Linked DNA regions of Homo sapiens: region 2 is linked to region 1. The links come from fine-mapping of genetic effects on gene expression. Tissue or cell type: whole blood. Region 1 holds a variant in brackets; the other region holds the start of a gene. All regions are shown on one strand. Distances are between the middles of the regions.

Region 1 (4,318 bases):
CATGGTGGTGTGTGATTGTGGTCCCAACTACTTGGGAGCTGACCCAGGAGGATCACTTGATCCCAGGAGTTAGAGGCTGCCATGAGTTACAGTAGTACTACTGCTGCACTCTAGCCTGAGTGATAGAGCGAAATCCCATCAATATCTCTTTCTCTTTTTTTTTTCCTAAAGAGAAAGGCTGGGTGCAGTGGTTCATGCTTATAATCTTAGCATTTTGGGTGGCTGAGGCTAGAGGAGTCCTTGAGCCCAGGAGTTTGAGACCAGCCTGGACAACATGGTGAGAGCCGTCTACAAAAAATAAAAAAAAATTAGCTTGGTGTGGTGGTGCATGCCTGTGGTCCCAGCTACTTTGGGAGGCTGAGGTAGGAGGATCTCTTGAGCCCAGGAGGTTGAGGCTGCAGTGGGCTATAATCATGCCACTGCACTCCAGCCTAGGCGACAGTGAGTCCCTGTTTGAGAAAAAAAACCTAACTGAAGTATTTTGTGTTGTGAAAATATAGTGTAAACATAAAACAGAATACTGTATATATATATTTTTTTTCTTAAAAAAAAAATCTCAGCTGGGCACTGTGGCTCATGCCTATCTATAATCCCAACACTTTGGGAGGCCTAGGTGAGTGGGTCCTCTGAGCTCAAGAGTTTGAGACTAGCCTGAGCAACAATCTTGTGAAATTGAGCTTTTCTTAATATATCTACAAAAATGTAAAGTGTAATACTGACGTATTTTAAAGCAGTTGTCAGAACTCACTGAAAAAATTATTATGTTTTTATAATTTTTTTTTTTTTTAGAGCTGGAGTCTCGCTATTGTTGCCCAGGCTGGTCCCAAACTCCTGGGCTCAAGCTATCCTCCTGCCTTGTCCTCTGAAAGTGTTGACCCAAAAGGGCTGGGTGTGGTGGCTCATGCCTGTAATCCTAACGTTTTGGGAGGCTGAGGCAGGAGGATCACTTGAGCCCAGGAACTCGAGACTAGCCTGGGCAACAAAGTGAGACCCTGTCTCTAAAAAAGATTGAAAAATAAAAAAGAGGAAAAGAAAGATTATTACTGTTGAAGAAGGAGATGCATTGAGGAGATGGATACACCTATTTTAAGGGAACTATCATTCAACGTTTTCTCTTTTTTTTTTTTTTGAGATGGAGTCTCGCTCTGTCGCCCAGGCTAGAGTGTAGTGGCGTGATCTCGGCTCACTGCAACCTCCGCCTCCTGGGTTCAAGCAATTCTCCTGCCTCAGCCTCCCGAGTAGCTGGGACTACAGGTGCCTGCCACCACACCTGGCTAATTTTTTGTATTTTTAGTAGAGACAGGGTTTCACCGTGTTAGCCAGGATGGTCTCGATCTCCTGACCTCGTGATCTGCCCGCCTCGGCCTCCCAAAGTGCTGGGATTACAGGCGTGAGCTACTGCACCCAGCCACACCTGGCTAATTCTTATATTTTTAGTAGCGACAGGGTTTCACCATGTTGGCCAGGCTGATCTCAAACTCCTGACCTCAGGTGATTCTCCCATCTCGGCCTCCCAAAGTGCTGGGATTACAGGTGTGAGCCACTGTGCCTAGCCTCATTCAACATTTTCTAAATTTATTTTCAATTGTTACGTGATTTGGTGGAACACCTGTAAATACGTTGAGCATAAAATGTTGTCATAGCCAGTTCTAACAAATGTGGTGGTGTGATTGAACTGGATAATACTATTTTGGGATGTTTTAGATGAGTCACAGTTCATAAGCTATCTCTTTCTGACACCTTTGAATTTCTTCCCAGTAAGTATGACTGACCTCATGGCAGGAATTCTCACCAACTGGATCAGTCTGGTGTAATGGAAAGGGTGGGAGTTGGAGGACTGTCACTTTAACAGTCTGTTTTCATTTGATTGAATAAACCGTTTGGAACGTGAAGTTAATAAGAAGGGGCTTACAGTTGGAGTTGGACTTGATCACTGGTTTTATAATTATTTCCTGGGGAGTACCTGTAGCATCTGAGAAGAGGGAGGGGAGGAGTAAATGCAGAGGGCTAAGAAGAATCTGTTGTCTTCAAGTTTCACTTTGAACAATTTTTCTTAATAGTCCTCTCTCTGAGTTTCTAAAAATGTTCTGTGGCAAAGGAATAGGAGAAAGCAAGCTGGGCATGGTAGCTCACGCCTGTAATCCCAGCACTTTGGGAGGCTGAGGCGGGCGGATTACCTGAAATCAGGAGTTCTGGACCAGGCTGGTCAACCTTGTGAGATCCTGTCTCTACTAAAAATACAAAAAAAATCCCAGCTATTCAGGAGGCTGAGGCAGGAGAATAGCTTGAACCTGAGAGGCAGAGGTTGCAGTGAGCCAAGATTGTGCCACTGCACTCCAGCCTGGGCAACAGAGTGAGACTGTGTCTCAAAAAGAAAAAAATGAAATAGGAGAAAACTATTGAATTTGGCAAATGTTATGATCTCTCTTACTGAACATTTTATGATCCGTATGTGAGAATGGTATTGTTTTGCCAAAATCATGCTGATTCTAGGA[C/T]TTTGTGGAATGGATGAGGGAGAAAACAGATTAGCATATAGGTCTTGGAAGCAAGAATAAAAGGATGGACTTACGTGAAAGAAATCAGCAGTCGTAGTCACTTGAGTTGTCATCATCCATCAGGTCCAATCTAGCAGGGAGGGAATAGCTTGAGAGACTTGAGACTGAGGCACAGATCTCTGTAGAACATGGGATTTATCCTGGCAAATACAGTGATCAAATTTAGGAGATTGGCTTTGATATAATACCATTATTTACCATATAATCTATCTTCACATTTCACCAGTTGTCTCAAAAATGTCCTTTATAAGATCCACACCAACACCACATATTTTATTTAGTTATATATTTTTAGTCTTATTTAATTTGAGATAATTCAGCCTGTCTTTTTTTTTTCTGAGATACTGCCTTGCTCTGTCACCCAGGCTAAAGTACAGTGGTATGGTCATAGCTCACTGCAGCCTTGACCTCCAGGGATCAACTGATCCACCTGCCTCAGCCTCCTGAGTGGCTGAGACCACAGACACATTCCACCACGCCTGGCTTTTCTTTTCTTTTCTTTTTTTTTAGACAGAGTCTTGCTCTGTTACCCAGTCTGGAGTGTGGTAGCGCGATCTCAGCTCACTGCAGCCTCCCCTTCCCGGGTTCAAGCCATTCTCCTGTCTTAGCCTCCCAAGTAGCTGGGATTACAGGTGTGCACCACTACACCCAGCTAATTTTTGTATTTTTAGTAGAGATGGGGTTTCACCATGTTGGCTAGGCTGGTCTCGAACTACTGACCTCAAGTGATCTGCCTGCCTTGGCCTCCCAAAGTGCTGGGATTACAGGTGTGAGCCACAGCACCTGGCCAAATTTTTTAATTTTTAATTTGATAGAGATAGGGTCTCACTGTGTTACCCAGGCTGGTTTTGAACTCTTGGACTGAAGAAGTCCTTCTGCCTTGGCCTTCCAAAGTACTGGGATTGCTGCTTTGAGCTACCACGCACAGCTGATTGACGTTTGTTTGTTATGACTTACATTTTTGTTGTTGTTTTTTGAGACAGAGTCTTGCTCAGTTGCCCAGGCTGGAGTGCAGTAGCACAATCTTGGCTCACTGCAGTCTCCTCCCCTACCAGGTTCAAATGATTCTCCTGCCTCAGCCTCCCCAGTAGCTGGGATTACAGGCATGCGCCACAACGCCCAGCTAATGTTTGTATTTTTAGTAGAAACTGGGTTTCACCATGTTGGCCAGGCTGGTCTCCAACTCCTGACCTCAGGTAACTGTCAGCCTTGGCCTCCCAAAGTGCTGAGATTACTGGCATGAGCCACTCCCTCTGGCCCATGACTTAACATTTTTGAAGCATGCAGACAAATGTTACATTTGTAAAAATTTCTTTTTTTTAATTTTTTTGAGACAGCCTTTCTCTGTTGCCCAGGCTGGAATGCAGTGGTACGATCCTGGCTCACTGCAGTCTGCCTCCTGGGTTCATGCGATTCTCATGCCTCAGCCTCTAAAGTAGCTGATTAACAGGTGTGCACCACCATTCCCAGCTGATATTTTGTATTTTTGGTAGAGATGGGGTTTCACCATGTTAGCCATGCTGGTCTCAAACTCCTGGCCTCAAGTGATCTGCCCGTCTCGGCCTCCCAGAGTGGTGGGATTTCAGGCGTGAGCCACCATACCTGGCCTCAAATTTTTCTGTGTTATTGCTTATAGTTGTAATTTGTTTATTGTCATTGCTGTGTACGGGCTGATACATTTTTTCTTTTTCTTTTTTTTCTGGAGATGGAGTCTCGCTTTTGTTGCCCAGGCTGGAGTGCAATGGCATGATCTCAGCTCACTG
Region 2 (4,143 bases), 830 kb before region 1:
ACCGCCCTGATGGGGTTGCAGGTAGGCACTGGCCTCGGGCTGTGCCCTAGGCTGTGTTCCTCCCAGGAGGCCAGAGCTGGGGCTTCAGAGGGCCACACTCCTGCTCGTGAGTCTCATAGAAGCTCCAGACGTGGAGTCATTCCAACCTTACTCCTACCTTCTCAACAGCCTCTCCCAGCACCCTTTGAGAGACCCTCTCACAGCAGCCTGTCCTTTCTTTTGGAGGCACCTCAATTCTGATGAGGTTTGCCTGAGCACCCACCCTCCCAGCTGGGCCTCCTGTCTCCCCTAAGACTGGCCCACGTGTGCACATATGTCTGTACCGTACTGTCCATGCCACTGGCCTGCTCTTGCCCGCCCTGGCTGCACGGGAGGAGGTGACAGTCTTAGGGGGAAGGGGCTGCCTGTGTGATAACATACCTGGTTCTCTGCAGCCCCCCACCTGGAGCACACCTTGCAGGGATGGGGGGTCCTGGGACATGGCTGAGGAGACCCTGACCTTGGAATAAGGTCATAGCACTATGCCCCAGGATAGTTTGGGGGGTCAGTAATAAGGGATAGAGCCCCAGCCTTCCTTGGGCAATAGGAAAGCAGGCAGCATGGATGGTCTTCACTGCCTCCAGCTCTGGCCACACCAGAGTCCTCGGGCTGTGGAGGAGTCCAGCCAGTGCTGTCCCCATATCTCCCTGTGGATCCCAGGGGAGGCTGTGGGGCCGGGCATATTAGAAGGGGCCCAGCAGCCTTGGTGAGTATAGATGTGCTTTCTGGGCTGCCCAGAGTTATTCAGGATTAGCAGGAAAAAAAGGGGGAGCAGGACCCAGATGGGGGCCTGCCCTTCTTAGCAGTGCCTCTCTGCCTTAGTGTCACCCATCTAATGGAGAGATATGCATATACAGAGCCCCACCTCCTTCGGACAGTGGCCCTGGCGTGGTGTGTGTTGGAGGACTGTCCACAGCCTCAGAAGCGAAGCTGGGGGAGGGTGTGAAGTCAGCCTGGGTAAGGGGACAGGAGTAAGGTAGGGGGCAGTTATGAAGCTGGAAGCTACAGGTACCATGAGGGCAGTGAGGAAAGGAGGAAGGGGCCCAAGGGGACCTCGGCCTGGTAGGGGAGATGGGTGGCAGGGACCTACAAGAAAAGTAGATGGAAGGAGAGGATGCCTGTGGGTGAGGACATGTAGGTAGGGGGACCTGGCCTGGGGCATGGAGGGCTCGATTCCTGAGAGATGAGCTGTCACTGTGGGTGGTCCCGCCCTCCACAGATGGGCGGCCCCCTCCCTGCAGGCACAGCTGGATTGCATCTGCCTGTGACATGGTAGGGGATGTGGGACACTGGGATGTATGCATAAGCATGACACAGGTTCTCTCCTCCTTCCGGCTTATCCCCTACAAAGAGGGGGTGAGTTACTTGGATCCAGGCCAAGGGGACCTTGGTTTCCCTAAGACCGGCCCAGAGTCACTCATTTGCCAGGGCTTCTTGCCTGTCAAGGAGATCCGGGTGGGGCCCAGGAGGCCCACCAGACAGATGGCTGAATCACAGGAGTGGCCGGCGGGACCCATGGCCTGAGGGCTTGTCTGGGCACCCCCACTGGATTGGGGGTGAGTCATCCCCAACTGCAGCCCCACCCCCCACGGCGCTGCTGCCTTGTGGCTCTGCAGGAACCTGTCCACTCCTCAGCCTGGTCACTGTGATTGACCTAAAGCAGCCAAGACCTGTGACCTTAGATGGAGTTAGGGGTACTCCCTCAGCATCTGCCCATGCAGAACCTTCTGGGAAATTCCCAGAAGCCACGGGGGGTCGGGGGGTTTATAGTTAAGTGCGTCATATCGTTTGTCTGGGGGAGGGGTGGGGGGGGCGGCGACCTCTCAGGGATATGGGTGAGGGCGGGTGCCTGGGTTCCCGCCTGCCGCTCCGCCCCCCGAGATCAGGGACTTTTCTCTGCTCTGCCCGAGAGACTGCAGCGGCGGCGGCGGGAGCGGGCGGACGCGCAGGCAAGACCAGGACTCGGGCTGGAGGGGCGCTGGGCTCGGACCTGCCAAGGCCACGGGGGAGCAAGGGACAGAGGCGGGGGTCCTAGCTGACGGCTTTTACTGCCTAGGATGACGCTGCGGCTTCTGGTGGCCGCGCTCTGCGCCGGGATCCTGGCAGAGGCGCCCCGAGTGCGAGCCCAGCACAGGGAGAGAGGTGGGCACCGCAAGGGAGGACCCGGCCCGGGGCACTGCACCGTGCCACCCTCCGCTCCACTCGGCCTTCATCCCCAACACCCCCCGCCCACAACCCAGCCAACTCCACGACGCCCCGCGGATTCCTCCTAATTCTGGGACTCCCCGAACCCTCCGCGATCGGTGCTGGGTTCCCTAAACCGCCTCCTATCCTGTTCCTACCCAAATTCTGGCTCCCTGGATGCGTGCGGGGTCCCCTGCCTTATGCCAATCCACGCCGGCCCCTAGAGGCTGACCTCAGTCCCAAGTCCACACCCGTGCTGGCGACTCTCCCTCCCCCGCACACCCCCAACCCTCCGCGGGAGTCTGCTCTGGGACCCACCGAGCTCAACTCCCTCCAAGGCCCTCAGGCTCAGGCCGATTCGGCCCTGGTTTGCATAAGATGAGGCCTACTCTCCCCACCATCCCAAGTCCCAGTGAGGCCACCGTGCGGGTAGGCGGGTGGTTGGCCTCCCAGAAGAGGCCCTGATCTCTCCTGCCCGCCCCAGTGACCTGCACGCGCCTTTACGCCGCTGACATTGTGTTCTTACTGGATGGCTCCTCATCCATTGGCCGCAGCAATTTCCGCGAGGTCCGCAGCTTTCTCGAAGGGCTGGTGCTGCCTTTCTCTGGAGCAGCCAGTGCACAGGGTGTGCGCTTTGCCACAGTGCAGTACAGCGATGACCCACGGTGAGTAGGGGCCCTGGGGGCTGGGGACCACGAGATCCCCACCAAGACTCCTTCCCCAGAGAGGGAGGAGACCCTGGAAACCCCAGGCCAGGTCTTTGCAGAAACAAGTTTTGGGGAACCTAGAGACCCCCTAGCCAGGACCTCCTTTGGAGACAGAGGTAAGGATTCCCTAGGTAGAACCTTCGTGCCCTGAGGCACCTCCAGGCTACTGCAAGACAGGAAGGTGCAAGACAGTGAGGCTGTGTTTTCTGATCTGGAGATGGGGAGCCCAGGAGGGGGCCCCCACGCCTGTTGGATTCTCCACGTTCTAGCCCTCTAACCCTTGCAGCCGTTCACCAGAGGTGCTCCATCTGGCCAGCATCCACTTTCCTACATCTGGACCCCTCCTCCTGCAATTATTTAATTAAGCAGCATCTTGTTCCCCACAGACTGTGAGCCCCTAAGGGCTCCTTCAGGTCTGCCCAGGCCCACCTGCAGATGGTGCACAAAGGAGCCCCTGGGGAGTTTGTTAACCTGGGGGTTCCAGAGGCAAGTGGGTGTGGAGAATGACAGAACGAAGGGACCCCTCAAGAGAGCCTGATACCCGTAACCCTCACCCTAGAGGCCTCCTCAAGGCCAGGGCCAGAAGAGATCCTGAGTCCTAGCCTGTTGCCACCCCTACCCTCCAACAGGACAGAGTTCGGCCTGGATGCACTTGGCTCTGGGGGTGATGTGATCCGCGCCATCCGTGAGCTTAGCTACAAGGGGGGCAACACTCGCACAGGGGCTGCAATTCTCCATGTGGCTGACCATGTCTTCCTGCCCCAGCTGGCCCGACCTGGTGTCCCCAAGGTGATCCCTACCCCTACCATGCCTCCCAAGATGACCCCAAATGAAGTGTCCAGGGGAACCGTGATTTGACCCCTGCACCTGTCCCAGGTCTGCATCCTGATCACAGACGGGAAGTCCCAGGACCTGGTGGACACAGCTGCCCAAAGGCTGAAGGGGCAGGGGGTCAAGCTATTTGCTGTGGGTAAGGACCGAGCAGGAGTGACAGGTCAGCTGGGGGGTGGGGGCAGTCAGAGAGCATGTGGGTGACTGAGTCCTGATGGGTCGTCACTTCAGGGATCAAGAATGCTGACCCTGAGGAGCTGAAGCGAGTTGCCTCACAGCCCACCAGTGACTTCTTCTTCTTCGTCAATGACTTCAGCATCTTGAGGACACTACTGCCCCTCGTTTCCCGGAGAGTGTGCACGACTGCTGGTGGCGTGCCTGT

Evidence for each region. PIP is the estimated chance that this variant, and not a neighbour inherited with it, causes the effect.
Region 2: COL7A1 starts here. The variant in region 1 is the best candidate, but not a certain one, in a credible set for the expression of COL7A1 in whole blood (TOPMed, PIP 0.53).

The regions. Positions count from the first base shown.
Region 1 is chr3:47,759,877-47,764,194 of GRCh38, reverse strand. All of the region lies in intron 2 of SMARCC1 (SWI/SNF related BAF chromatin remodeling complex subunit C1), which reads left to right. Among named protein-coding and RNA genes, the nearest start is that of SMARCC1, 20 kb to the left of the region's middle. The variant C/T (reference allele first, on the strand shown) is at 2,496.
Region 2 is chr3:48,593,113-48,597,255 of GRCh38, reverse strand. COL7A1 (collagen type VII alpha 1 chain) reads left to right here and starts at 1,927. Exons shown (of 119, transcript NM_000094.4): 1 at 1,927-1,988; 2 at 2,096-2,181; 3 at 2,708-2,888; 4 at 3,560-3,719; 5 at 3,807-3,900; 6 at 3,993-4,143. The coding sequence starts at 2,097.